Linked DNA regions of Homo sapiens. The protein of the gene in region 6 purifies or fractionates together with the protein of the main gene of each other region. This does not show direct contact. Each region holds a gene or a part of one and is shown on either strand. Other genes may lie near its edges. The genes, in order: SMC4, EIF5, FNBP1, CMYA5, HNRNPA1L2, BZW1 and GCN1.

Region 1 (2,402 bases), on a different chromosome or scaffold from region 6:
TCCAACTTTTCTTAGGTGGTCGAACACTGAAATGATTAAGAAAATCATAGTCAAATTACCTGTAAAGCTAAAGTTAAGACTTTGTGATTTGCTTTCCATAATTGAGTTCTACTATCTTTTTTAGGAATCTGTAACTTGCTTTTCACAAATATGAATTCTCTTTTCTGTTATTTTATAAAAACGTTATTGGAGGATGCATACATAGGAGCACATACCAAAGTTTTAAGATTTAAAGAGCAAGCTAAGTATTATACTTCTTGCTATTCTTTCTCCTTATCAAATACAATTTCTCAATCCTCATGTTAAAAATGCCTTGAAAATTTAAGAAAAGATGAACTAGACAAATATTTTGTAAATACTGGCTGTCTGCCCCTGTAAACTGCAAGCATAAATAGCATGCAAGCAAATTAGTATTTACTAGTAAATGAAACAAGTTGTACATCTTGCCTTCACATCCTACCTCCAAGAAATACTGAGTTTGGAGAATATGTAGAAAAAGGTAACAGTGGGATTATAAACTCAGCATAATTACACACCTGAACATGATTCCTTCAGAGAAAGGATCCAAGCTGTCTACAAGCTCGAGTTCGGCGTCCCCTCCCAAAGTAAGCATTTGGTAATTTTCCTTTAATTTATTTGTTATTATATAAAAACCTGCCATAAATTCATTAAGCCTTTGTTTCCGAAGATCTTCATATGCCTGTCTAAAACTGTCTCTTTCATAAGTAATTTTGTCCAATTCTGCTACCCGTTGCAAATACAATTCTTCCTGTGAAAAGATTATGATAGGGAAAATCTATTCAGATAAATTTGATATGATAATTAGCATTGTTAATTATTACTTTGTTTTGAGACGTAGTCTTGCCCTGACGCCCAGGCTGGAGTGCAATGGCGCGATCTCGGCTCACGGCAACCTCCACCTCCCAGGTTCAAGCGATTCTCCTGCCTCAGCCTCCCGAGTACCCGGGATTACAGGCACGTGCCACAACGCCTGGCTAATTTTTTGTATCTTTAATAGAGATGAGGTTTCACTATGTTGGCCCAGCTGGTCTCGAACTCCTGACCTTGTGATCCACCCGCCTTTGGCCTCCCAAAGTGCTGGGATTACAGGCGTGAGCCACCACGCCCGGCCAACAGCATTGTTAATTATACAAAACTAAAGATCAGAATTTAGGCTAAGGACTAAAAAGAACTCCAACTAGTATACATACACAGTTCATTCATACCTTCTTTTTATACTCTGCGATGGCACCGAGGTTTGGTTTCATTTCATGACACCGGGCTTCCAAAAGTGCAATTTGATTTGTTATAGAATCTGGATTCTTGATCGCTTCAAGATCCTCTGGGCTTAGAACCGAAATCTCTTCAATAGGATTATCTTCTATAGGATGCAGTGATATTTTTGAAATCTAAAAGTTCAATTTAGGGGAGAGTTAGAGAAGGCATAATATTACATACAATTCATTGTTTAAAAAAAAATATGACAAATTACACAGCTATGAAAACAACAGGAGTTGTGACTGATTTATCAATTATTTTTCAAAGGACTTCAAGAAAAATAGTTGTAACACTCAAAAGTGTCCATGTAATCTTTTCTTAAATGTCCAGATCAGCCCTAGGGTGAAAGGGTAGTTGTCTAATTCTAATCGTTACTCAGACTTTTCTGTATATAACAATTTATATTGTTATGTCCCCTATAAACCTTAGAAGTGATCACAGAATTAAAAATCACAATGTAGCTCACAAACAAAATTTAAGAACCCCAACCCCCTAAAACAATCCTCCCCAAACCCTCCTTTTTCATAAAGAATATGTTTAAAATTAAACTAAACGGTAACAATCTCACCTCTTTGTGCCAATATTTTATTTTAGAATTATGTTCAGCAATGTGACCATCTATTTGTTCAAGTTTCAACTTAATACTAAGTGCATCTTTTTGAAGAGCATGTTCATTTTCTTGAATAACTTTTAATTCTTGAAGCAGATTGCGATGTTCTTTCTGGATCTCTGGTAAGGATTCCTAAACACCGAAAAGAACTGCTAGATAGAATTTTCCAAATAGAGCCATCATTTTCACATTACAGAGATGAAGGAATTACCAATCTCTCCTCATGCCCCTTCCATTTTAAAATAATTTAAGCATTTAAATTCACAAATTATAGTATTCTTATTGTACAAATAAAAATTGATAGTTATAAAACTTTAAGTCTATGAGTGCTTACTACATTCTAGGCACTGTCATATATCCAGCTCTTTAAATTGGTTCCAGTATCATCCCATCTCCTCTTCAATACAAAGCAACTCATACCTCTGCAGCATTTGTATTCTTTACGACCTCTGCTGCTTTGTCCTCAAGACTTTTCAGCTCTGCTGTTAGGTCATCCACCTCTTTCTCAGTATCT
Region 2 (4,298 bases), on a different chromosome or scaffold from region 6:
TTTGATGTTAAGAATGACCGTTACATTGTCAATGGATCTCATGAGGCGAATAAGCTGCAAGACATGTTGGATGGATTCATTAAAAAATTTGTTCTCTGTCCTGAATGTGAGAATCCTGAAACAGATTTGGTAAGTGCTTTTGTGGTTGTCGAAAGAAAAAGCCATATACCTGCTTCTGTGATACCGCTAAGTCACCTTCCTGAGAAGGCAGAGCAAATGTAATTTTAAATCAAACACAAAACTCCAGTTTTCGAGATATTTCCATTCTTTTTTTTAAAGTAGGTCACTGTGTGAAAAAAGTTTTCTTTGCATGTGAAGCTGTCTGTGGTTTAGATGTCCTCTGATTAGATATTTTCATGTTATATTATGGATAACATTTGTTATTTTTTTGGCAGCATGTCAATCCAAAGAAGCAAACAATAGGTAATTCTTGTAAAGCCTGTGGCTATCGAGGCATGCTTGACACACATCATAAACTCTGCACATTCATTCTCAAAAACCCACCTGGTGAGTCTTCCATGATGAACTCCTAAGATCCTAAGATAAGTTACTAACTGTTGGGAACAAAATAGAAGGTTTTTTTGTAATAGGAATGTAAGGGAGACTGGGCACGGTGGCTCATGCTTGTATTCCCCGCATTTTGGGAGGCCAGGGCGGGCACATCACTTGAGGCCAGGAGTTCAAGACCAGCCTGGCCAACATAGTGAAACCCGTCTACTAAAAACACAAAAACTAGCTTAGCATGGTGGTGTGCTCCTGTAATCCCAGCTACTCCGGTAGCTGAGGCATGAGCGTCGCTTGAACCTTGGAGGCAGAGGTTGCACTGAGCTGAGATCGTGCCACTGCACTCCAGCTTGGGCAACAGCGACTCTGTCTCAAAAAAACAATATAAGGAACCTTTTAGTCCTTGTACTATATTTTATCAAATCTAAGACATCTTTCAAAAGTGTATTGTTAATTACCATTAAAGGTGAAAAATAGGCTGCCAATTAAACTGTGCCATATCAATTAAGACATTATCTGAGGGTAGATGAAGTAATGACTAAAATTCTGCTGGAAACCCAGCAAAGTTTCTTTTACTGGCATTGTTTGGTAAAGAGGGCCCCCTTCATTAAACTTGAATATTGCAAGCAACACTCTGTGGCAGATGATCAAAACTGTCTGACACAATTTGAGCTTGCTATAGCAAGAAAGTCTAACCTATTCCGGTGTTCTCTCTCCCATGAGACAAGCCGTTATATAGACTTAAACAGTGTTCCACCTGTTGGCTAAAGCTGGGTTGAGTTAATGACTTTGTTCATGAGGGATGACAGGGATCCTTAGGGCCACCTCTCCCTAGTGGAGGCATCATCACTTCATCTTACTCTTTCTTAGCAGTTACAATACCCCTAATATTTTGTGTCACTCCATTCTTAGACTAACATTCTTACGTATGAAATACATGATGAATTTGATCTGTGAAGCCTCTTAGGTAGCATTGTGTGTGCTGTGTGGTTTTTCTGAGGGGATCCATAGGAAAATAAGGGCAGGGTTTTAAACGTTAATGATGGGCAATGAGGTAATGTAAGTTATGGGGTTAAATTTTTATTTCCCTTTTTTTCTGTAGAGAATAGTGACAGTGGTACAGGAAAGAAAGAAAAAGAAAAGAAAAACAGAAAGGGCAAAGACAAGGAAAATGGCTCCGTATCCAGCAGTGAGACACCACCACCACCACCACCACCAAATGAAATTAATCCTCCTCCACATACAATGGTGAGTGCAGGGTTGATGGCCTAGTGGGCACTAAAGTTGTGTAAAGTATATGGCATTTGGTTGAGGTGGGTGGAAATGTTGAAACTAGCCTTCAGTGTGTAATACACTAATATTGTGGATTCCAAGTACTGTTTGTTGTTTGAATTAAGGTGAACCCAATTTTGGATGGAGATGGACTTGATGCCATTAACTTGGCAAAATCTGAACCTTTTTGTTGTTGTTTTTAAGGCCTTTGATCAAGTAGCTCTGTTTTCATAAACAGGAAGAAGAGGAGGATGATGACTGGGGAGAAGATACAACTGAGGAAGCTCAAAGGCGTCGAATGGATGAAATCAGTGACCATGCAAAAGTTCTGACACTCAGTGATGATTTGGAAAGAACAATTGAGGAGAGGGTCAATATCCTCTTTGATTTTGTTAAGGTAAAACATTTGCTTGGTCTGTAAATCAGCTTCAACCCAGCCTTGTTTGTGCCTTTAGATATATGATACTTTAGCAGTGTAATTAGGATTACTCTAATGCACGACTTTTTAGAACTCTTGTTCATTTAAATATTTTTTGCGCGTGATTCCAGGCACTATGTGTCACAACTGCCAAATTAGGCAGGAAAAATATGTTCATCAGAGCAGGGACTGGCTGGTGTCTTGAGCCTGGCAAAGTGTGCCTCCATTGCACTGAATTGTTTTCCTTTTCTTTGCAGAAAAAGAAAGAAGAGGGTGTTATTGATTCATCTGACAAAGAAATCGTTGCTGAAGCAGAAAGACTGGATGTAAAAGCCATGGGCCCTCTTGTTCTAACTGAAGTTCTTTTTAATGAGAAGATTAGAGAACAGATTAAGAAATACAGGCGCCATTTCCTACGAGTAAGCAAAGTGCTCTGGATTCATAAATGAGATTACAGTTGTGTGGCTTTCGAGATGGTCATATTAACCACTTTTGCTTGTCCTGTCATGCTTGAAAGTGGGGAAATTGACCCACCTTACAAGCCTCTGAGTATCTGAAAGTGCCATACCTAGGCCCTTACAAAGTAACAGGGATGTTTATGCATTGACCTTTTTGAACAACTATGGTATGGGCCATGCACTTGCAGACACTCTTATTTGGGTAATAGAGTTGTCAACTTAGAACACATAAAAAAGATTGTTAACACCAAGGTGTCTATTTGCAGTTTTGTCACAACAACAAAAAAGCCCAACGGTACCTTCTTCATGGTTTGGAGTGTGTGGTAGCAATGCATCAAGCTCAGCTTATCTCCAAGATTCCACATATCTTGAAGGAGATGTACGATGCAGACCTTTTAGAAGAAGAGGTCATCATCAGCTGGTCGGAAAAGGTGGGGAATACATAGGTGGGCTCTTAAAGTTCACAGGTTTTGGGGGGTTTTTTTGTTTGGTTGATTGTTTTTGGAGACGGAGTCTCATTCTGTTGTCCAGGCAGGAGTACAGTGGTATGATCTCAGCTCCCTGAAACCTCCACGTCCCGGCTTCAAGTGATTCTCCTGCCTCAGCCTCCCAAGTAGCTGGGATTACAGGCACCTGCGATCATGCCCAGCTAATTTTTGTATTTTTAGTAGATGGGGTTTTACCATGTTGGCCAGGTTGGTCTCGAACACCTGACCTCAGGTGATCCACTGGCCTCCCAAAGTGCTGAGGTTACAGGTGTGAGCTCCTGCGCCCAGCCGTTCACAAGTATTGAGACGGCTTTGAGATGAAGAAAAAATGTCTTAATATCTATAGCTAAAGTTCAGTGCCTGTGCTGTAGATTGTGATTCGCATCATGTCAGATTTGTAGTCATAACAGACTGCTGAGACTAACGTGTTCACTGAGTACATTGATTCTGTTTGAGGATTCAGACTTGTTAGGACCCAGTCCCCTCAGCTCAGTAAGGGGGATTGTATAAATAATCAAAAGTTGTTAAAATTCCTCAACTAAGAGACTTGTACTCACATTTTTTAGGCCTCTAAGAAATATGTCTCCAAAGAACTTGCCAAAGAGATTCGTGTCAAAGCAGAACCATTTATAAAATGGTTGAAGGAGGCAGAGGAAGAATCTTCTGGTGGCGAAGAAGAAGATGAAGATGAGAACATTGAGGTAAACATTGGGGGAGGAGGGTATTGGATACAGTGCTGGCATGGGTGTTTGAGATTTAAAAAGGTTTGTGAGGAGTGATATAATGGCAGTTTGGGGTAATTTCAGGTTTAGAATTTAAGATGCAGTAAAATACAGCCTCTCAATAATTTGGAAAATAATAGAAAGGGTGATGGAAACTGTGTTCCTACTCCTACACATTATAGTCTATAAAAAAACTTTAAAAATGCTCTTAGACTGGAGCCTGTGTAAGAGAACTTGCAGTGTTTGCATAACAGAGCTGTTCCGTGAAGAAGAAATAGCTGCATCTAGGCAGTTTCCTCCTCTGTGACCACAATTTACATTGATTTGTTTTATAAACAGATTTATCAGCTTATGTTGAATAAAATCATTCCTCTTAACAGGTGGTGTATTCGAAGGCTGCCAGTGTACCGAAAGTTGAGACTGTAAAGTCAGACAA
Region 3 (4,298 bases), on a different chromosome or scaffold from region 6:
GACTATAGGTGTGCACCACCACACCCGGCTAACCTTTCTATTTTTAGTAGAGATGGGGTTTCACCATGTTGGTCAGGCTGGTCTGACTCCTGACCTTAGGTGATCCACCAGCCTCAGCCTCCCAATTTTTTTGTTGTTGTTGTTTGTTTGTTTTGAGACAGAGTCTTGCTCTGTTGCCCAGGCTGGAGTGTGATGCCACTTGTCCCGGGTTCAAGTGATTCTCCTGCCTCGGCCTCCCGAGTAGCTGAGATTACAGGCATGTGCCACCACGCCCGGCTAATTTTGTATTTTTAGTAGAGACGAGGTTTCACCATGTTGGTCAGGCTGGTCTTGAACTCCTGACCTCAGGTGATCCACCCGCCTCGGCCTCCCAAAGCGCTGGGATTACAGGCGTGAGCCACCACGCCCGGCCCAACTGCTCCTCTTTAAACACTGTCCTCACATATTGCTTCCATTCTGGTACTTTCTGCAGCCAAGATTCCACTTTTCCCACTGTCTGCAGCACACTGCCACCTAGACATGGCCCCAACACCTGAAACAACATAGATGAACCTGGATTCACTGTTCTTCCTCCTAACTATATCCTCCTGCTTTTCCACTTCCCTAGACCTCTCTGTCCTCCCAGGAATGCAACTCTGGGAGCCGTCTTGGATTTCCTCTCCTTTTTGTTCCTGGCTTTTGATCAGCCCCGAATATATGCAGTTTGTCAATGGCGGCATCTCTGTATCCATTCCTTGAACAAGGCCCCCAAGACCTTCTGCTAGGATCATTTCAAAGGCTGCCCACCACCCCCCAGTTTTCTGCAAGGCAAAGAGTTTAGGGAGCTGTTAACAGGGCAACAGGGTACGGTGGGGGATGGTTGGAATATGAAGTAAAACTGGGAACGTTTAAACTGGTACGTCTTTCTTATTTTGTCACAATGAACATTTAGTCTATTAAAGGCTCTGAAAAGTCCTGTAGTAAAGAAATCTGTAAAATTTATTTATCCCAGGGCTTCCCAAACTTACTTGAGCTCTGATTGCTAGTTTTAAAAATTTATTCATTATATTAAAATGCAACTTTTTCGTAATTTTATTTATTTATTTATTTATTTTTTAGAGAGGGTTTCACACTATCGCCTAGGCTGGAGTGCAGTGGTACGATCATAGCTCACTGTAGCCCTGAACTCTTGGCCTCAGCCTCCCAAAGTGCTGGGATTACAGGTGTGAGCCACTGAGCCTGGCCTGAGAGCTTCTTTCATGGCCTCCTTATTAACGCTCTGCAGGACATCGTTTCAAGGTTCATTGGTTTAGAAACACTAAGCTAGTTTATCTTTTCTTTCTTTTTTTTGAGACAGAGTTGCCCTCTGTTGCCCATACTGGAGTACAATGGCACGATCTTGGCTCACTGCAACCTCTGCCTCCTGGGTTCAAGCAATTCTCATGCTTCAGCCTCCCGAGTAGCTGGGATTACAGGCGCCCGCCACCACGCCTCACTGATTTTTGTATTTTTAGTAGAGACGGGGTTTCATCATGTTGGGCAGGCTGGTCTAGAACTCCTGACCTCAGGTGATCTGCCTGCCTCAGCCTCCCAAAGTTCTAGGATTACAGGCGTGAGCCACCATGCCCGGCCTGGGCTAGTCTTTCTAACCATCCTCCATGTCTTCCAGTGGATCCTACACATCTGACGATGACTTTCCTAAGGTACAGCTCTGACTGCATCGACACCCTGCTAGGGGACCTCCCATAGCTCCTCAATGTTTGCCACATAAAACCCAGATGTTTCCCTACCTCGCCCCCATTGGCACTTCCCACTCTTTAGTGCCACATTTCACTATTAGGACTTAAGACATCTAAGCTCCAGCCACACCACACCCATTTCTGGCCACACCCCCCATGCCATGGCAAGTTCTCCAAACTTCCTTAAGGAAGCGACCTCATTCTCCCCTGTCCTCCCCGTTCCTCTGTATCCCTCTTCTGGCAAACACTGCAAACTGCCTGCTTTTTTTTTTTGAGAGGGAGTCTTGCTCTGTTGCCAGGCTGGAGTAAAGTGGCACGACCTCGGCTCACTGCCACCTCCGACTCCTGGTTTAAGTGAGTCTCCTGCTTCAGCCTCCCAAGTAGCTGGAATTACAGGCATGCGCTACCACGCTTAGCTGATTTTTGTATTTTTAGTAGAGATGGGGTTTCACCATGTTGGCCAGGATGGTCTCGATCTCCTGACCTCACGATCCGCCTGCCTCGGCCTCCCAAAGTGCTGGGATTACAGGCGTGAGCCACTGCACCCAGCCGCTGCTTGCTCCTTAAGTGTGTCTGCCTGATTTCCCTCTGGGCAGGTGCCATATCATACGACCTGCATCCCCCCACTTCATGGGCCTTTACAAGACAGGAGCGCTATAGATACTAGATATTAAATGAATGGATGAAATGATCATCCTCCCTATCGTCTGCTGCAGTGAAGCAAGCTCTCTGGAAGCTGTTAAGTTATACGAACCAAAAGTCAAAATATACAACCAAATAATAATCATACCATGAGTAGGATAAAAGCATAGTAGAGAAGGATCTGGAAGGCTGCTGCTGCAGCTTTTTTTTTTTTTTTGAGACAGAGTCTCGTTCTGTCACCCAGGCTGGAGTACAGTGGCGCTATCTCAGCTCACTGCAACCTCCGCCTCCCGGGTTCAAGTGATTCTCGTGCCTCAGCCTCCCGAGCAGCTGGGATTACAGGCGCCTGCCAGCATGCCCAGCCAGTTTTTGTATTTTTAGTAGAGATGGGATTTCACCATGTTGGCGAGGCTGGTCTTGAACTCCTGGCCTCAAGTGACCTGCCCGCCTCAGCCTCCCAAAGTTCTAGGATTACAGGTGTGAGCCACCATGCCCGGCCAGATCTGGAAGGCTTCTAAAGAAAGTTCTGGTCACAGAAAGAGAAGAGTGTGGCTAGGCACAGTGGCTCACACCTGTGATCACAGCACTTTGGGAGGCTGAGGCAGGAGTACTGCTTGAATCCAGGAGTTCAACACCAGCCTGGGCAACATAGTGAGACCCTGTCTCTACTGAAAAGTACAAAAAGTACAAAAGTACAAAAATGAGCCGGACATGGTGGTGCTTGCCTGTAGTCCCAGCTACTCAGGAGGCTGAGGTTGGAGGATCACTTGAGCCCAGGAGGTCAAGGCTGCAGTGAGCCATGATTGCACCACTGCACTCTAACTTGGGCAAGAGAGCGAGACCCTGTATGAAAAAAAGGAAGGAAGGAAGGAAGGGAAGGAAGGGAAGGAAGGGAAGGGAGGGAAGGGAAGGGAAGGAAGGAAGGGGAAGGGGAAGGGGAAGGGGAAGGGAAGGTAGGAAGGAAGGAAGGAAGGACAAAGGAATAAAAATGATCAGAAGGAAGGAAGGAAGGAAAAGTGAAAGAAGAGTAACTCAGATATTATGGTTTATAAAAGGCAGGGGAATCCAGCAGACATGAAATGTCACCTTCAAATGTGTAGAGAGCTTTGCACGTCCCTATGGCAGGGAGGGGCTCCTCATCATCAAACTCGTCGTCAAAATCCGTGGCCAGCACCTTCATCTCACTCTCCTGACTCTGCTCCTCTGTGTAACTGCCATCTGGGCTGCTCAAGAAAGGAAAACACAAAGCAACTAAAGCGACTGACCCCAGGGAGGACTCAGATTGAGTCCCTGCGACTGGAGAGCACTTGCAACCCCGCCCCTCAGCGAGTGCTGTAACTGAGGCCATGGTAAATCATCGCACGCTCAGATCACCCATCCCATGTGGAATTATAAATCTGCATCATGGAAAAAGTGACAGGTCAATCGCAACAGACATTTTGGCATTGAACAAGTGCCTTATGGTCATTCCAGATTCCAAAATTTAGAAATAAATACAAAGCCAACAGGCTCCCTTGCCAGAGGCAGGCGCTGTGCAGATACTGTACCTCTCACGGTCCTGGGCGCAGTTGTTGACTGTGGGTGGGTTCTGGCTGTCGTACAGTCCGCTCTGCCGGCGCGCCTGCTCGCTGCGTGCTGGGAGCCGGCCTTCAACCTCAGCCAGCCAGGCCTGGAGACAAAAGCAATGAGAGACTCCAACCTAAGGCCATCTGAGGGTCAGCCCAGAGTGTCCTAAGGTCCCAAAGGCCATCTGAGGGCCAGCCCGGAGCATCCTAAGGTCCCAAACTCAGGGGCTACTCTTGGCCATTTAACCCAATGTGAGGAAGTCCACGTGGGGGCAGAATGGCCACGTTTTCTGCCTTCGACTGTTCAAATGTACTGAAGGACGGTTGCTTCCATTTCACCCGAAGTTGGAGACATAGAAACAAACTCATATTT
Region 4 (4,298 bases), on a different chromosome or scaffold from region 6:
TTTCTACGGATGGACTTGGCTGTGTTTCTAAGTCTTCTTGTTCAGCAACTTTGTTATCTGGAGTGCTCGATCCAAAAAACAAGCTGGACATCCACGATTTGAAAGATGAAATTCCTTTCTTTCCCTTTTCCTCAGGAAGGTCCGGCTTAGCCACCTTTGGTTGTGTAGGTGGATTTTGTGTCACCTCAGGTGACTCTGGGGATTGAGGCTCTCTTGCATGGATTGAGGAGATGGGTTTTCTTTGTGTGGGTATTTTTACTTCAGGTGATGGTTTCTTTCCCTCATCAGCATCATCAATAACCTTTGACTGAACCATTTTTGATTCTTCCAATGGCTTCTCTTCAGGAAAAGGAGGTGTGCTCCTGTGTGCTTCTTTTTCATTGCCCAATGCAGGTTCCACACCTTCTGCCGGGAAATGGGCTGTTTTGACAGAAGAGGAGATTGTTTCTGACTTCACCTGTTCCACTGATAGGCCAGACACTGGTTTCTGGAAGAATCTTTCAGGAGGTAGTTTAATTTTTTCCTGGCTATCTTCTTTGGAAGGCCAGGAAAGCTCTGTGTTTGCTTTCTCCAATAGCAAACTTTCACTCTCCATCAAAGAATGAATCTCCTTCCCCTCTGCTATGTTTCTCTCTACATTTCCAGCTAGGACTAAAGACTTTGGTTCTTCAGCCAGCTTTACTTCTTCAGAAGAGTAACTTTTACTTGATAAGGTCTCTGTATTACCACTGGAAGTATCAAGAGCAGATACTGCTTCTTGTGATGACAAATGAGATTCTTCAGCAGAATGCGGCAGGACCTGCTTTCTCACTTCACATGTATGGTCCTTACTGGACACAGCAGCCTTGAGCTGCCCTGGCCTCAGCTCATTGCTGCTAGAGGAATCCAGCTGCACAGATCCTGCTATTCTCTGTTCGTGTTGACTAGCCACATTTTCTGGCTTTCCCAACATCCAGTTTTCATCCTTTGGAGAAATAAAGAATTCTTCCATTTTTGTTTCTTTGACATCCGCAGGCTTGGTTGTCATAAATGATTTTGATTGTTCCAAAGGCAAATTCTCTCTCATAAGTGAAAACTGCTTAATACCCAGATCTTGTTTATCTTCAGAAGAGGTGCTTACATCAGGTAATTTAACAGTTTGATCTGAATGAAGTGCTTTTTCTGTCTTTTTTTGTTCTACAAGGAGGTCAGAAGGAGCAATCTTTGATGGTTCTGTTATACTCTGGAGTACCTGGGATGAATTTGGGTGGCCTGTTTCTTCACTTAGCTTATCTAAAATATCTCCCATGACTTGTGCCTTCAAATTTCCAGTTGGTGGTAATGGGCCTATTTCTTGATTTCCTCCCTTTTTAAAGTCGGCTGGATGGCTAACCTCCTCTGATAATCCTTTTAAAGAAAAAGTAAATGGCTGAAATTCTTCTGGGTTGCCTCCTTCAGCTACAGAGGCAGGTGGTTCTTTCGACTCTAGGCTGATGATCTTGGGAGAGAAAGGTTTAATTTCTTCATTCTGAGATTCCTCCCTAAGCAATGATGAAAGCTCTGAAATTGCAGGCATCGTAGAAGATGCACAAAGCTCTCTATTTTCTTCTTTTCCTTCTCTGCTCCTAAGCTCAGCTGGGCCTTTTTCTAAAACAGAATCCTCTGTTTCAGTTATGGGAGACTTTGCTTGTTTTGTACCTATGGATCCACTTTGTCTACCTAAATCACTAGAAAATTCTGACCCAGCATTTGGTAATTCCAACGGTTGGTGTGGCTTGTCTTTCTTCTCAGGTTCCAAAGACAGCTCTGCCAAAGCAACATCTTGTTTTTCTGATGGGAAGTCTCCCTGAGCTGTAGAAGATACCTCCACTGCCGGTTTGTTCTTATCATCACTGAGGAGCAGTAATGTTGGGGCTAAACCTGATGCTAAATTTTCCAACTCAGGAGATGAACTTGCTGTTTCCTCATCTTTGCCTTTTGGGATTATATGTTTGGATGCAGGTGACACATTTTGTGATGAAGGAAGTTCAGTTTCTTTCTTCTTTATCTCACCCCATAGGCTGAGTGGAAGCTCATGTTCAGGCTCTAACACCTCTGAGGTAGACATCAAGCTCTTCTTCTGTGATGAAACCAAACGTTCAGAGTCACAGACTGTAGAAAATAAAAGATCTTGTTTGTCTTCTACCCTTGCTTCCTCAGATTTATCTGAATGCTGAGAAGATGATGTTTTGATTACTGGCAACCCAGCTTTAACTTCTTTGGCTTCTACTTCTGACAAAACAGAATGCTCTGCTATAGAGGAGACACTTGGAAGTGAATCAAATTTAATTTCCTTCTCTGCTTCTGACCAAGCTAAATGTTTGGATGAAGTTTCAATGGGAGAAGCACCTTTAATTGCCACCTTGTCTTCTTCTGCAAGAACTGAATGTTCATCTGCAGATGTTACCAGTGGTGGCAAACCACTTCCTAATTCACCCTTTCCTACTTTTGTTAAGACTGGACGATCTACAGGAGTGATAAGAGATGAATCTGTTGGGATTTCTTCTTTTACTGCTCTGGTTAAGTTTGAATCAAGCTTAGTTACAGATGCTGTAGTTGTTGAGGAACTGGGTTCAATTTCTTTTTTAATTTCTTCTGACAAAGCTGAAAATGCTAGTGCAGGTGGACCATGTTCAACTTGCTTTTCCACTCCTGAGGAAGCTGAATGAAGCACTATAGGTGTAGTTGTTATTTTGGAATCATGTTTCATCTCCATTTTCACTGCTGATAAAGCCTCAGGTCCAGATAAAGATGTTTCCTTTAGAGGTGAATATGGTTTTATTACTTCAGGCTCATTCTTGGACAACTTTCTCTGTTCTAGTTCAGAAGTCACATTTAGAACTAATTTGGGCTTGACACCCTTCTTTGGCTCATCTACCATGTCAGGCAAAACTGAATATTTCATCTCAGACTCTGGAACATTTGGAGGCTGAGGCTCCATTTTTTGATCCTGTGATACATGTGCTGTAGCTTCTTGAGAATCAGGCACAATTTCTTCCTTTCTGACTTTTGACAAAGCCATCTGTTCATCTGCAGCTTTTAGAGTGAGTGCTGCTGTGGGTTCCTGTTCTTTCTTGATTGCAGGGACTGAATCAGGTAAAACTGAATGTGGAGATGCAGGTTTGGTTTCTTCCTTTACTATAGATGATTGTGCAGGTAAAGCAGCAGGTATTGCAGCTACTGATGAACTTGCCTCCCTTTCTCCCTTCTCCACTTCACTGGTTAAATGTGAAGGAATCAAGTCTTCAGACTCAGGCTCTAAATATGCTTGAGTTTTCTGCTTCTGTGCCAAAATGAGATATTCAGATACAGATGTTGAGGTTGTTGGAATCTCTGGCTTAATTTCTGCTTTCTCTGATTTATCTGTTGAAGGCGGCAGACTTAAGTCTTCAAGCGGAGACATCAAAGGGAAAGTTTCAGCTTTTTGCTTCTGTGATGAACTGAACTGCTCAGATACAGGTGTAGCAGCTGTGGATCCAATGTCTTCCTCATCTGCTTCTGAAAAGCAGGAATAACCTGAAGCAGACACTGCAGTTAATAGTGAATCAGGCTCAAGTTCATTTTTCTCTGTTTCTGAGATTCTAAAGGGAGGGATTGAAACTTGTGATGCTGAGTCTGGAGAGAACAGTTCCGCTTCTTCAGTGTCTTCATCTGACAAAATAGTGTGCTCAGATGGTGATGTTAAACATATTGGAGAATCGCACTCAAATTCTCTTTTCTCTGCTTCCTGGGTTGCATACGGTGGAAATGAGAATTCTGACACAAATGCAGAATCTGGAGAAAAAGGTCCAATGTCTTCTTGATCTTCTTCTGATAAATTCATGGGTGAGGATGCACCTTTTAGATTTAGAGATCTATGGACAATTTCTTCCTCCTGTGCCTCCGGTGTTGCATATGGTGGTACTGAAAATTCAGAAGCAGATGTAGAAGAGGGTGTGTATCGTTCCAACTCGACTGCCTCTTCGTCTGATAGAACAACATATTCAGATGGGGTGGCTGAAAGTGGTGGGGCCTGGCATTCAGAAGTCATCTCGGTTGTGTGTGGTGGGAAAGAGTGTTCAGATGCAACAACCAAATCTGGGGAAGATGGTCCAATGACCTCCTTGCCGTCTACTGACAGAACTGTGTGCTCAGAAATACCTTTTGGTTTGAATTGGGATGCCTCATTGATTATTTTCTTTTGAGATTCCTGTGTTGCATTGAGTGGGGCTGCATATTTGGAGATCAACTTTGAATCCGGTGTGAAACGTTCACTTCCTAGGTCCTCTCCTTCTGATGGG
Region 5 (4,089 bases), on a different chromosome or scaffold from region 6:
CAGAATAATATAGACATTCAAGTTAGAAAAGTACTAGGTAATCTTAATGTACACTTGGAAGTTTAAGAATAACTGATCTGGCCCCAACCTGTCATTTTAAGTTTGTCCCTCAATGTTGCTCTACATTTATTCATTCAACCAACATGTATTGGGTAAGGTATCAAGGATGTCTTCACATAGTCATGGAACTCTTAGTACAAAGTTGACAGAATATAATGTCTGCCCTCCAGAGACACACTGGGGTTAACCAGTGAAGTTGCTTACTGCTGCGGGTGACCAGCCAGTGGCTCTCACCGTCCATTTAGACTAAAGGGATCAGTATTTTGGGCACACCCATAACCATTCATAGTACCTTAGTTGGGGAGCTCTGCCTTATGTCCTGGTATTTCTTAAGATTCCTTTCTTGGCTCTCTTCCCACTGCACATGCTTCTTTGACAATCTCATTTACTTCCATGGCTCAGTCACATCTGATATCCACGTCCAATCAATCATGCAGCCCAGGTAATTTACCTCCTCAAAAGCTTTTAATTTGTCATTTGTCTTCATGTTTCTACCTTAGTTTAAGTTACCATCATTTCTTACAAGGAATATGCAAACTTCTGAACAGGGTTTACAAGGACCAGCATGATCTGTCCCGATATTACATCTTGACTCTCTGTAGCCCTAACATAATCTAGTCATCAACTCCTGAATAAGACATGGCTGTCAGTACTTGGCCTCTCCACACCAAATCATTGACTCAAGATTGTTTATTAAAGAAGGACCTGTGATGCTGTTGTCATTGTCCTTAACCTGTAAACTTGCTGCCTTCCTCACTTTCCATTTATTCTTTAACCCTCTGTAGTATTGCATTTGACTTATTACCCTGAATTTGTTGTTACAAAGGTCACTAAGAGTAACCAATTTCCATATTGCTGAATCCCATCCTTCCTTCTCTTCCTGGACCTCTTGATCAATTGATAACCTTTCATAACTCACTTTTCCTCTAAACTCTCTATTGCCTTCAGTTTTGCCCAATCTGAAGTGCCCAACTGTCCTATCCTGCTTCTGTAATATTTTCCCCCTTTTACCATGTAAAAAATAATTTCCTGATGTTCCCTTTGGGTTGCTCCAGAGACTTTTTCAAAGATTGGAGTTCTCCCAAGTTTTGTCTAAAGGTCACTGTTCTTATTCTCTGTTTTCAACTTGTCCGCTTCCAATCTGTTCTCCCCAGTGCAATAGGAGTGTCAGTCTAATTATGTCAAGCCTTCAGTGGTTTTTTAAATCTTTTCAGATGGAGTTGAGGCCCTATGTGGTCTCACCTCTTCTTTATCTCACCAGCCTTATGATCAAATTCTGCACTCCCAGACATAATAGCAATTAGAATAAGAATGTTTTCAATTGCAAGAAGCAAACAGAAAAACCCAACTCAAAATTATTAAATAATACAAAACAAAAAGTCAGGAGTTTGGAGGCTTCTGGGTTGGTTAACTCAGGAGCTCACTGGTATCACTGATGAACTAGGTTTCTCCATCCTTATGCTTTCACTTTCCTTGGGATATTGGTTTGGTCTTCCAGGATGGCTATTGCTAAAGGTAGCTGCAGTAATTTATTCTGTGTTTCTGTTTATCAATAAGGAGACCTTTCCCAGAATCCCTGAGCAGACACCTCATGCATGGCCCAATTGGCTAGATTAGTTATATACCCCTTCTTAAACCATATTGTTTGCCAATATGGCCAACAATGTGGGGTTGGTGATCCCAACAATGTGGGATGTGGGATTACCACAAATGACTTAGTCATGTGCTGGAGAAACAAAATTAGGGCTTCACAGCAAGGAAGAAGGGAGGAATGAAGTATCCTACTGTTATGTATACTTGTCTTTCTTCCTGTACATACACTAAAAAATGTTCAGGCCCATATGAAAAATGTATTTATTTCCCAAAGAGAATCAGCCAGAATCTCATCCAAATACTCTATCCAGCTTCATATCTAAGATCTCTGGTGGACTTTTTCTGCCCGTGGACGCCGCTGAAGAAGCATCGTTAAAGTCTCTCTTCACCTTGCCGTCATGTCTAAGTCAGCGTCTCCAAAAGAGCCCGAACAGCTGAGGAAGCTCTTCATTGGAGGGTTGAGCTTTGAAACAACTGATGAGAGCCTGAGGAGCCATTTTGAGCAATGGGGAACGCTCACAGACTGTGTGGTAATGAGAGATCCAAACACCAAGCGCTCCAGGGGCTTTGGGTTTGTCACATATGCCACTGTGGAGGAGGTGGATGCAGCTATGAATACAACGCCACACAAGGTGGATGGAAGAGTTGTGGAACCAAAGAGAGCTGTCTCCAGAGAAGATTCTCAAAGACCAGGTGCCCACTTAACTGTGAAAAAGATATTTGTTGGTGGCATTAAAGAAGACACTGAAGAACATCACCTAAGAGATTATTTTGAACAGTATGGAAAAATTGAAGTAATTGAAATCATGACTGACCGAGGCAGTGGCAAGAAAAGGGGCTTTGCCTTTGTAACCTTTGACGACCATGACTCCGTGGATAAGATTGTCATTCAGAAATACCATACTGTGAAGGGCCACAACTGTGAAGTTAGAAAAGCCCTGCCAAAGCAAGAGATGGCTAGTGCTTCATCCAGCCAAAGAGGTCGAAGGGGTTCTGGAAACTTTGGTGGTGGTCGTGGAGATGGTTTCGGTGGGAATGACAACTTTGGTCGTGGAGGAAACTTCAGTGGTCGTGGTGGCTTTGGTGGCAGCTGTGGTGGTGGTGGATATGGTGGCAGTGGGGATGGCTATAATGGATTTGGTAATGATGGAAGCAATTTTGGAGGTGGTGGAAGCTACAATGATTTTGGCAATTACAACAATCAGTCTTCAAATTTTGGACCCATGAAGGGAGGAAATTTTGGAGGCAGAAGCTCTGGCCCCTATGGCGGTGGAGGCCAATACTTTGCAAAACCACAAAACCAAGGTGGCTATGGCGTTTCCAGCAGCAGCAGTAGCTATGGCAGTGGCAGAAGATTTTAATTAGGAAACAAAGCTTAGCAGGAGAGGAGAGCCAGAGAAGTGACAGGGAAGCTACAGGTTACAACAGATTTGTGAACTCAGCCAAGCACAGTGGTGGCAGGGCCTAGCTGCTACAAAGAAGACATGTTTTAGACAAATACTCATGTGTATGGGCAAAAAACTCGAGGACTGTATTTGTGACTAATTGTATAACAGGTTATTTTAGTTTCTGTTCTGTGGAAAGTGTAAAGCATTCCAACAAAGTGTTTTAATGTAGATTTTTTTTTTTGCACCCATGCTGTTGATTGCTAAATGTAATAGTCTGATTGTGACGCTGAATAAATGTCTCTAAAAAAAAAAAAGATCTTTGGTGGAATCCGTAGGCTGCTTTTTCATCTGGTGGCTGTGGCTCTCTGGTGTTTTGTCCTCAACAGCCACATCTAATATGAGCACTGGGAAGAAGACTCTTTCTAAGGCTGCTCAGCTTTAGAGTACATTTCTTGATGGTGTGAGCTTGGTGTCCTGTCTCAGAGTCACTAGTTTCCCAGCCCGAAACAGTTGTGTCTCAATGCCCTCCATCCTGCCTTTTCCACCCGGCCAATTACACACCATTCTAGGTCTGTTTTGTAGCACTCCACTTCCAAATACCAAATTGTCTATCAGTTTGGATTCTTAGTCGTAAGCAACAGAGATGGATTCTGGTTTTCAGCATAAGATAAATTGTATTAGAAGAATATTGTGCTGCTTGCAGAATGGCCAAAAGGACTAGAGAATCAGCATCAGTCTGAGCCACACGGCTGGGAATAAATCCTGGAACCATACTGCATAACTGGTCGGGTGAGGAGATTGTAGCCACTGTTGCCAAGCACTGACACACTGCTTTGTAACACTATCTGCTGCTTTGGGAATTTGATCTTGACACATGTGCTACTGCATCTGGAGAGGATACACTAAGGTCCTTCCTTGATTTGTTGTTGCTAACCAGTTACCAATTTTAAAGTATGTGCAAGTTCAGCTTAAGTTGTTTGGCATTTTCAGCTTTTATAGAGGGAGACTGGCTCAGTGGGAAGACTCAAGGAATTCCCCAGACATAAGA
Region 6 (4,298 bases):
TTTTTCTTAATCTGATTTAAAGAAAGTTTAACCAGATAAATTCTTCTTTTAGGAACTCTTTCCTGCCAATAAGCAAAGTGTTGAACACTTCACAAAATATTTTACTGAGGCAGGCTTGAAAGAGCTTTCAGAATATGTTCGGAATCAGCAAACCATCGGAGCTCGTAAGGAGCTCCAGAAAGAACTTCAAGAACAGATGTCCCGTGGTGATCCATTTAAGGATGTAAGTTTTTGTTTAAACCGTCTTTTTATGGCTAAGCTTCTGGCATAGAGATTTTCACTAATTTGAGGAACTTACTTCACCAGGATGAGATTGAGTTAATAGTAACAGGATGTTATACTGGAACTTTGCCTCATTCTTTTGCATATGCTTCTTCAGTGCCTGACTGAGGCCCAGAAATACAAGAGACTGGAGCTCAGGGCACCTTTCAGTTGTAAAGGTCTCTTTTTATATGTGGTACACATGTGGTTGCCAGTTGCATGGAAAAGGAGTTGTTAGTTTTTGTTAAAGGTCTAAACTTGATGTGTGAAGTATGTACATAATCAAAACTGACTTCTGTTACTAAATTTGGATTCATTTGCAGATAATTTTATATGTCAAGGAGGAGATGAAAAAAAACAACATCCCAGAGCCAGTTGTCATCGGAATAGTCTGGTCAAGTGTAATGAGCACTGTGGAATGGAACAAAAAAGAGGAGCTTGTAGCAGAGCAAGCCATCAAGCACTTGAAGGTATTAGAACTATGCCTTGACAAAACAAACTATTCTGCTTTCACGTGGTGATAAGTGAACTGTGACTATATTTTTCTAAGAGGATTTATCACATCCTGTGGTTCCTAGGGATGGCCCACCAGTAAATAAACAAATAGTAACATTAGCTATTGATGATAATGCTCTGAATTGGGCTGTGGTTCACAGGTTAAAAACAAGAATATGGCCTGGCCAGGCACAATGGCTCACGCCTGTAAACCCAGCACTTTGGGAGGCAAGGGCAGGAGGATTGCTTGAGCTCAGTTTAAGACGTGCCTGGGCAACATAGTGAGACCTCATCTCTACTAAAAATCACAAAAAATAGCCAGTCGTGGTGGCGCATGCCTGTAGTCCCAACTACTCAGGAGGCTGAGGCAGAGGATCTCTTGAGCCCTGGAGATCAAGACTGCAGTGAGCTTATGATGGCTTTGTCAGACAAAGCCTGGGTGACAGGGTGAGATCCTGCCTCAAAAAAAAGAACATGATGAAAAGGAACTTCAGCTTGTAATTAGATGTTTGCTTTTGAAGGGGGTATTGGAAAATAGGAATTTTTCCCCCCCTCTAAAATACTAATATTGTTTGACATTTACTTGGACTACTTGGTATAGTATTGTTTATTTTACTTAGCTACTTAGATTTTCTGCTTTTTTTTTTTTCTCTTGAGACAGTCTCACTCTGTCACCCAGGCTGGAGTGCAGTGATGTGATCTCAGCTCACTGCAGCCTCCATCTCCTGGGTTCAAGCAGTTCTGCCTCCTCGGCCTCCCAAGTAGTGCCTGGCTAATTTTTGTATTTTTAGTAGAGACGAGCTTTTACCATATTGGCCAGGCTGGTCTCGAACTCCTGACCTCAAGTGATCCACCCGCCTCGGCCTCCCAAAGTGCTGGGATTACAGACGTGAGCCACTGTGCCCAGCCTATTTTTTAAATTTCTGGTAAATAAGTTATAGTTTGCAGTGATTATAAAAGATGAGTTAAGTTCTATATTGTCTGTATTGTAGGAGTTTTGTAATGGATGGTTATTTGTAATGAATGACTAAATCTTTTCTCTGTTCCTTTAAAAGCAATACAGCCCTCTACTTGCTGCCTTTACTACTCAAGGTCAGTCTGAGCTGACTCTGTTACTGAAGATTCAGGAGTATTGCTATGACAACATTCATTTCATGAAAGCCTTCCAGAAAATAGTGGTGCTTTTTTATAAAGGTAATTTAGATTTTGAATTTTGTAAATAACACTTAATAAAAACCCTTATAAACACAAAATTATCCAAATGATGAGTTATCTGGACATCAGCTCCCTGAAATATTTTACTTCTAGTTATGAGTCACCTCTGATTAAATTGGGTGCTTTTTAGTGCACTGATACTTGTTTAAAACATCTAAACCCTATTCACAAGTTGAAGTATGAAATCTAAAGCCATCATTATGCGTCCTCAAACTTGCCTCCTATACTCTTAACCAGGTATACATTCCCAAAGTTCAGCTAGGTGTGGTGGCTCATACTTGTGACCCCAACACTTTGGGAGCCTGAGGCTGGAGGATCGCTTGAGCCCAAGAGTTCAAGACCGGCCTGGACTGCATAAGGAGACCTCATCTCTACAAAAAAAATAAAAAATTAGGCAGGGAATGGTGGCGCAAGCCTGTAGTCCCAGCAACTCAGAAGGCTGAGGTAGGAGGATCACTTGAGCCTAGGAGGTCAAGGCTGCAGTGAACCATGATTGTGCCACTGCACTCCAGCAGCCTAGGCAACAAGTGAGACCCTGTTTCAAAAAAAAAAAATCCCCAAGTCCCTTTTCCAGACAGTCTGTAGTCTTAGCTATGTAGTCATAGCTCTGGAGTCTTCAGCCTGTGTGAATCCTGCTTCTGTTCATCTTACTCCCCCACCCAGTGTTGACTTTCCGTAGTCCTTCAAGACCAGTTCAGAGTGCTTCTATAGCAACCCCAATTTCAGTTATATTGTTCCCTTTTCTCCTGATCCCAATTTTAGAAACCTGGTCTAAAGTGGCTAGTAAAGACAAGACCTCTGTTGGGAGAAAATCCATTGCAGTTGGTCATAACACTTTGAAATTCTGCACTAATCAGACCAGTCTTGATCCCGTTGAGTGTAGTTGGTATGCGCACATGTATTATTATCTTCCATTTCTCATGGATGTTTTTAGCTTTTCAGCAGTTTGTTTGCTAAGCAGGCATTTGCACATTAGGTGGTGGTTCTAACGCTGAGTAGAGTATATTAAAACTCCCTTAATGCAATGAGTTTTCTTTCCAGCTGAAGTCCTGAGCGAGGAGCCCATTTTGAAGTGGTATAAAGATGCACATGTTGCAAAGGGGAAGAGTGTTTTCCTTGAGCAAATGAAAAAGTTTGTAGAATGGCTCAAAAATGCTGAAGAAGGTAAGGATTTTCCTTTGTGTGGTTTGTTTGGTAAAGCTAATTTTAATGTGGCCATAATATATCTTCACACATGCTTCCTTCTTTCTGATGCCATTTTGTACCTGGAGTAGAGATTTTTGTTATAAGGCAGGTGGCGAAAGCTAGAGTTTAATTATTATAGTATATTTATGGCTCAGCCATAATAGTAAATGTTCTTCATGAAATGGAAAATTTTGAGAATATTTAATGTTTATAAATTTGTGGATTTCTTTTCTTTTTTTTTTTAATTAAAAATATAGAGACAGAGTCTCACTATGTTGCCGATGCTGGTCTTGAACTCCTGGGCTCAAACAACCTTCCTGCCTCAGCCTCACAAAGTACAGGGATTGCAGATGTGATTGCACCCAGCCAAATGTTGGGATTTCCAAGTGAATGCTTTTGAATATCTGCCTCATGTAAATAGGTTATTAATAAAATTCGTTAACAGCTTCAAAGTTACATGGAGGCTGGGTGTGGTGGCTCACGCCTGTAATCCTAGCACTTTGGGAGGCTGAGGCGATCAGGTCATTTGAGGCCAGGAGTATGAGGCCAGCCTGGACAACATGGGAAACCCAGTCTCTACTAAAAATAAAAAATTAGCCAGTTTTGGTGGTGGGCGCCTGTAGTTCCAGCTACTTGGGAAACTGAAGTGGGAGGATCACTTGAACCCGGGAGGCAGAGGTTGCAGTGAGCCAAGAGGGTGCTGCTGCATTCCGGCCTGTGGGACAGAGGGAGACTCTGTCTTAAAGAAGCTTCAAAGTTATAAATGGGAACTTTTGCCTTCTGATACATAATGTTTGACTGTTTTTTTCCCCTTTTCTAGAATCTGAATCTGAAGCTGAAGAAGGTGACTGAATTTTGAAACTACACCCTCAGTAAAGCAAACAGGAGTTGTAGATAAAATGTCATGTCTCATGTGTCCTGGTTCTTACATCTTCCTACCTCCCTGTATCAAGCATGATATAAGGGCTTTCATGGCAAATTTTATTTTAACTGTTTCTATGGTTGCTGGAAATGTTGGGTTTAGTTTCTAAAACCATGTTTTAAGTAGCTACAGGAGCTATAGATTTGAATCTAATGTTGCATTAGTCTTTTCAGTTATCTTCTACCTCCTGTATTTTCTACTGTAATAATGTAATTTAAGG
Region 7 (4,904 bases), on a different chromosome or scaffold from region 6:
TGCTGAGTTTTTCGTGCTTAAATCCCTGCCATAATTCTATTGGCAATGAATAAAAGAAACTGATGTCCAAAACTGTCTTCTACATAAATAATGTAGTTTTAACTTTAAAATGTCTTTTGTTTTTATAGTCATAGATGCACACAGAGTCAAAACCAAAGAGTTCTGAGAAGTCTGCCATAAAAACCAGTCCCTTGCCCTCACTCTCCATGGGCAACCCTTAGGTTGATCTGGTGGATATTTGGGTAGTTACCTCCATATATCTAAGTATCTCTAAATATGGAGGTAACTTGCATGTGCTTCTTGATTTTTCAGTTTTGCTACCTTTCCACCACAGCTCCCTTTCCTGCTGTGACCCCATCGCACACCCTCCCCATTTCCCCAGTGGAAGTCCCCAGTTTCACATACAGGCTAGGTCAGTAGTCAGTGATTACATTATATGTAAATGGCATTCAACATCCATTTAATAAACTCTGATTCTTCCCAGCTTTTTTATGCCCCTGGTGTTAATAATTACCCTTTCCCACCTCACTTCAGTTTGACTTGTTTTATCTGTTCTTATAAATAATTAAAACCCAAACTTTTTGCCATTTGTCTAAATCTCAGTACATTTAGGGAGATCAGGTATTCCATCAAATTCCACCTTCCTAAGGAAATCTCTCCCAGAGTTTTCTGACCTGCCCCAATTAGGCATGTGATCCTCTACAGCTGGGGCACAGTTTATCACCCTGAACATGTACTTTCTTGTGTTTGGGTGAAGCACAGCCTCCATTTTGTAAACTCCTTGCAAGTATGAAAATGTTCTGGCCAAATACAGAATTCTAGGTTGAAATCATTTTCCTTTAGAATACTGAAGACAAGGCTGGGTGCAGTGGCTCACGCCTGTAATCCCAGCACTTTGGGAGGCCAAGGCAGGCAGATCACAAGGTCAGGAGATCGAGACCATCCTGGCCAACATGGTGAAACCGCGTCTCTACTAAAAATACAAAAAAAAAAATTAGCTGGGCGTGGTGCCGGGTGCCTGTAATCCCAGCTACTTGGGAGGCTGAGGCAGAAGAATCGCTTGAACCCGGGAGGCAGAGGTTGTAGTGAGCCAAGATTGTGCCACTGCACTCTAGCCTGGGCGACAGAGCGAGACTCCGTCTCGAAAAAAAAAAAAAAAGAATACTGAAGACAAGGCCGGGCATGGTGGTTCACGCCTGTAATCCCAGCACTTTGGGAGACAGAGGCGGACAGATTGCTTGAGGTCAGAAGTTCGAGACCAGCCTACCCAACATGGTGAAACCCTGTCTCTACAAAAACTAGCCGGGCATGGTGGCGCATGCCTGTAATCCCAGCTACTCGGGAAGCTGAGGCAGGAGAATTGCTTGAACCTGGGAGGCAGAGGTTGCAGTGAGTTCAGATCGTGCCATTGCACTCCAGCCTGGGCAACAAGAGAGAAACTCCGTCTCAAAAAATAAAATAAAATAATAAAAAATAATTTCAGGCCAGGTGCGGTGGCTCACGCCTGTAATCCCAGCACTTTGGGAGGCCAAGGCAGAAGGATCACCTGAGGTCAGGAATTCGAGACCAGCCTGGCCAACATGGAGAAACCCCATCTCTACTAAAAATACAAAAATTATAAAATACAGAAATATTCTCCTGCACCACCCAATACGGTAGCCACTGGCTACATGTGGCTAACTGTGCACTGAAATGTGGCTGGTACAAGTGAAGAACTAAATTTTTTTTTTTTTTGAGACAGAGTCCCACTCTTGTTGCTCAGGCTGGAGCGCAGTGGTGCGATCTCAGCTCACTGCAACCTCTGCCTCCCAGGTTCAAGCGATTCTCATGCCTCAGCCTCCTGAGTAGCTGGAATTACAGACATGCCACCATACCCGGTTAATTTTTTGCATTTTTAGTAGAGACGGGGTTTTGCCACGTTGGTCAGACTAGTCTCAAACTCCTGACCTCAACTGATCCACCCGCCTTGGCCTCCCAAAGTGCTGGGATTACAGGGTGAGCCACCACGCCCAGCCAAACAATGAATTTTTTTATTTAATTTAATTTTAACAAACTTAAGCCATGTGGCTGCCATACTGGACATTGCAGCTCTAGAGATTTTTCCCTCAAGTGAGTATCAATGTTAAACATTCAGCATGTATTCCCCTAACCCTCTCATACTAAGCTTTTCTTTCTAGTATTCAGTACAACATAACTTGAACATCAGCCACCTGCATAGGAGTCTCAGTAAATGTCTTTTTGAATGCTTAAGTGGTCATTTTCTGGGCCTACACATAAAAATCAATCCCATCACCCTGGAGACACCAAATCAGCCCAGCTGTCCTTAGACACCTGTTCTTCCCCTGCCTCATGACAATGTCTTTTCACCTTAAAACATAACAACTGGGTGGAGGAAAAGGTTTTCCCAGGTCCTTCCTGAACTACAAGGTACCCATAGGTAACACTCTTCCTGGACAGGACAGTTCTTTTCACTAACCCTGGATCTGATAACAACCAACATATATCAAGCCGTATTTTATCTCACTGAACCTTCACAACAACCTTTTAAGATAAGTATTGTTTTAACTTCATTTTATAGATGAAAAGGCAGACTTGGCGGGGTTAAGTCACTTGTTTGGCATGTCACAGAAATCGACGAGCAGGAACTCAAGCCCAGATCTGTATGAATCCAAAGACTACACTCAAAGTCCCTGCTCATAGTAGGTGCTCAAAGAATATTTGCTGAATACAAAGTTTAAGGAAGACTTGGCGTTGGCCCGGGGCTCACAGCCGGAGGGCTTTGGAGAAAAGAAGTAGAGGCTCGGTAAAGTGAACTTCTGCAACTCTGGGGTCGGGCAAAGGCCCCGCCGAGCTCCAGCTGCTGAAGTCGAGGCGGGAGCCCCGGACTCCTCGAGCCCGCGGTCTGCCTGCGCCGCCCGGGCCGGGCCAAGCCCGCAGCCCTGAGAGTCCAGCCTGAGACGGCCCCGAGACTACGACCTCCACAGCCACCACCTCCAACGCCCCTAAGCCGAGGAGCGAGAGGGGCCCCGCCCGACGGCCACCGTCCGCACCCAGTCCCTGGCCGCGTTGGCCCCGCAGCCGCCCGCCTCACCTGCGTGTCCGCCGCCATCCTGCCGGGGCTGACTCCGGAACCGCTTCCGGAACGCTTCCGGGTCACAGCGTGGCCCACGCGGCAGGGCGAGGCCGGGAGCCAGCGGGGGCAGGGCCCCGGGCTTGGTGCCCCCGGGCAGGACGGCGGCCGCTGCAGCCCGGGCAGCCGGATCACGGGCTTAAAGTTGGCCCGCGCCCGAGCCACAAGGCCTCCTCCCCAGGGCCCGCTCTTCAGCCCCGGGCGCCTCGTGGGAGACTAGCGCTTGTAACGTGGTGAGCCCGCGGTGTAACGCTATGGGCCCGCCTTGCAGCCCCTGACCCACTTCCAGCCCGCAGGGCCAGCCCTACGTGGGCCTTTCCTGAGTGATGACTAAGTTCTTTAGAAAAACAAGTGTTGCTTCCTAGATAGCAGGAACTAAAAACTAGGTAAAAGAGTCGGTGAACTAGTCTTTTGTCCTCAGTTTGTAGTTCAGTTGGCGGATGACTTGTACAGGGTTAGCAAACGTGGCTGGATACGGAGGTCAGGGAAGGTTCAGAACTGAACGAGGCCCCTGCCCTGGGGAAATGCTGGACGCCCCAGGCTGGGAGTTTTGAAGGCCACAGGGCAAGAGGCTACGTGCAGACGTGGCTGCAATTTAGGGAACAGGGTCTCCACAGCTTAGTTGTCAGCCCTGTTAGCAGTGGCTTTCAAACCTTTGACACAGACCTAGTTAGAATGAATATATCATGTTCCAGCAGACAGATCTCTAAGTGAAATACAGGAATCACAACAAAAACACCTATTCTCAGCAGATGCTGCTTTCTCTTTAAATACTGGGGCCAGGCATGGTGGCTCACGCCTGTAATCCCAGCACTTTGGGAGGCTGAGGTGGGTAGATCAACCTGATGTTAGGATTTCCAGACCAGCCTGGTCAACATGACAAAACCTTGTCTCTACTAAAAATACCAAAAAAAAAAAAAAAAAAAAAAAAGGCCGGGTGCGGTGGCTCACCCTTGTATAATTCCAGCGCTTCGGGAGGACAGGGCGGGCAGATCACAAGGTCAGGAGTTCCAGACCAGCCTGGCCAACATAGTGAAACCCCGTCTCTACTAAAAGTACAAAAATTAGCCGAGTGGTGGCACATGCCTGTAGTCCCAGCTACTGGGGAGGCTGAGGTGGGAGAACCGCTTGAACCCGAGAGGCAGAGGTTGCAGTGAGCTGAGACCATACCATTGCACTCCAGTCTGGGTGACAGGACGAGACTGTCTCAACAACAAAAAAATTAGCCCGGTGTGGTGGCAGCCTCCGGTAATTGCAGCTACTTGGGAGGCTGAGGCAGGAGAATCACTTGAACCCAGGAGGCGGAGGTTGCAGTGAGCCAAGTCCAAGCCACTGCACCCCAGTCTCAAATATATTTGAGACTATCTCGAAAATATAAATTGGTTACCACCGAGTTGGAGCACCACCCAGTTTGAAAAACTTTACTCTAGGGGACTGGCCCCAGCATCCACCAGGTGCCTATCTCAGCTGACACTAAACCTACTCCAAGTATGCAGCAGCCATAGAAACAGTAATTCTAGTGTAATAGTTACAACTGTGTCTAGAAAACTGTATAGGATGTTTGATTGGTAGCTTCATTTAGATACCCAAACATCAACACCTAAATACAAAGCTCTGGTTTTACCATGGCTTTCGTTTCTAGCATATGGCACTATAAACCTCAAAATTAAGGGCCAGGCACATGGTGGCTCAAGCCTGTAATCCTAGCACTTTGGGAGGCTGAGGCAGGATTCCTTGAGGCCAGGAATTTGAGACCAGCTTGTGCAATATCTCT

The links.
Region 1: the proteins of BZW1 (region 6) and SMC4 fractionate together in Homo sapiens (co-fractionation; one large-scale study listed by BioGRID). This does not show direct contact.
Region 2: the proteins of BZW1 (region 6) and EIF5 fractionate together in Homo sapiens (co-fractionation; one large-scale study listed by BioGRID). This does not show direct contact.
Region 3: the proteins of BZW1 (region 6) and FNBP1 fractionate together in Homo sapiens (co-fractionation; one large-scale study listed by BioGRID). This does not show direct contact.
Region 4: the proteins of BZW1 (region 6) and CMYA5 purify together in Homo sapiens (affinity purification with mass spectrometry; one large-scale study listed by BioGRID and IntAct). This does not show direct contact.
Region 5: the proteins of BZW1 (region 6) and HNRNPA1L2 fractionate together in Homo sapiens (co-fractionation; one large-scale study listed by BioGRID). This does not show direct contact.
Region 7: the proteins of BZW1 (region 6) and GCN1 fractionate together in Homo sapiens (co-fractionation; one large-scale study listed by BioGRID). This does not show direct contact.

What each region holds. Positions count from the first base shown.
Region 1 is NC_000003.12:160,430,650-160,433,051, reverse strand, and holds part of SMC4 (structural maintenance of chromosomes protein 4), read right to left. Parts: coding exon 2,309-2,402; intron 2,021-2,308; coding exon 1,847-2,020; intron 1,410-1,846; coding exon 1,227-1,409; intron 770-1,226; coding exon 537-769; intron 27-536; coding exon 1-26. UniProt on the Homo sapiens protein: Central component of the condensin complex, a complex required for conversion of interphase chromatin into mitotic-like condense chromosomes.
Region 2 is NC_000014.9:103,336,721-103,341,018, forward strand, and holds part of EIF5 (eukaryotic translation initiation factor 5), read left to right. Parts: coding exon 1-129; intron 130-395; coding exon 396-507; intron 508-1,128; exon of another isoform or gene 1,129-1,254; intron 1,255-1,606; coding exon 1,607-1,752; intron 1,753-2,014; coding exon 2,015-2,173; intron 2,174-2,451; coding exon 2,452-2,613; intron 2,614-2,918; coding exon 2,919-3,083; intron 3,084-3,706; coding exon 3,707-3,841; intron 3,842-4,242; coding exon 4,243-4,298.
Region 3 is NC_000009.12:129,896,519-129,900,816, forward strand, and holds part of FNBP1 (formin-binding protein 1), read right to left. Parts: intron 4,030-4,298; coding exon 3,908-4,029; intron 3,587-3,907; coding exon of another isoform or gene 3,584-3,586; coding exon 3,447-3,583; intron 1-3,446. UniProt on the Homo sapiens protein: May act as a link between RND2 signaling and regulation of the actin cytoskeleton. Required to coordinate membrane tubulation with reorganization of the actin cytoskeleton during the late stage of clathrin-mediated endocytosis.
Region 4 is NC_000005.10:79,731,102-79,735,399, reverse strand, and holds part of CMYA5 (cardiomyopathy-associated protein 5), read right to left. Parts: coding exon 1-4,298. UniProt on the Homo sapiens protein: May serve as an anchoring protein that mediates the subcellular compartmentation of protein kinase A (PKA) via binding to PRKAR2A. May function as a repressor of calcineurin-mediated transcriptional activity.
Region 5 is NC_000013.11:52,640,442-52,644,530, forward strand, and holds HNRNPA1L2 (heterogeneous nuclear ribonucleoprotein A1-like 2), read left to right. Parts: upstream 1-1,989; 5' UTR 1,990-2,051; coding exon 2,052-3,014; 3' UTR 3,015-3,332; downstream 3,333-4,089. UniProt on the Homo sapiens protein: Involved in the packaging of pre-mRNA into hnRNP particles, transport of poly(A) mRNA from the nucleus to the cytoplasm and may modulate splice site selection.
Region 6 is NC_000002.12:200,818,171-200,822,468, forward strand, and holds part of BZW1 (eIF5-mimic protein 2), read left to right. Parts: intron 1-52; coding exon 53-223; intron 224-584; coding exon 585-731; intron 732-1,811; coding exon 1,812-1,950; intron 1,951-3,012; coding exon 3,013-3,135; intron 3,136-3,976; coding exon 3,977-4,008; 3' UTR 4,009-4,298. UniProt on the Homo sapiens protein: Translation initiation regulator which represses repeat-associated non-AUG (RAN) initiated translation probably by acting as a competitive inhibitor of eukaryotic translation initiation factor 5 (EIF5) function.
Region 7 is NC_000012.12:120,191,589-120,196,492, forward strand, and holds the start of GCN1 (stalled ribosome sensor GCN1), read right to left. Parts: upstream 3,128-4,904; 5' UTR 3,110-3,127; coding exon 3,092-3,109; intron 1-3,091. UniProt on the Homo sapiens protein: Ribosome collision sensor that plays a key role in the RNF14-RNF25 translation quality control pathway, a pathway that takes place when a ribosome has stalled during translation, and which promotes ubiquitination and degradation of translation factors on stalled ribosomes.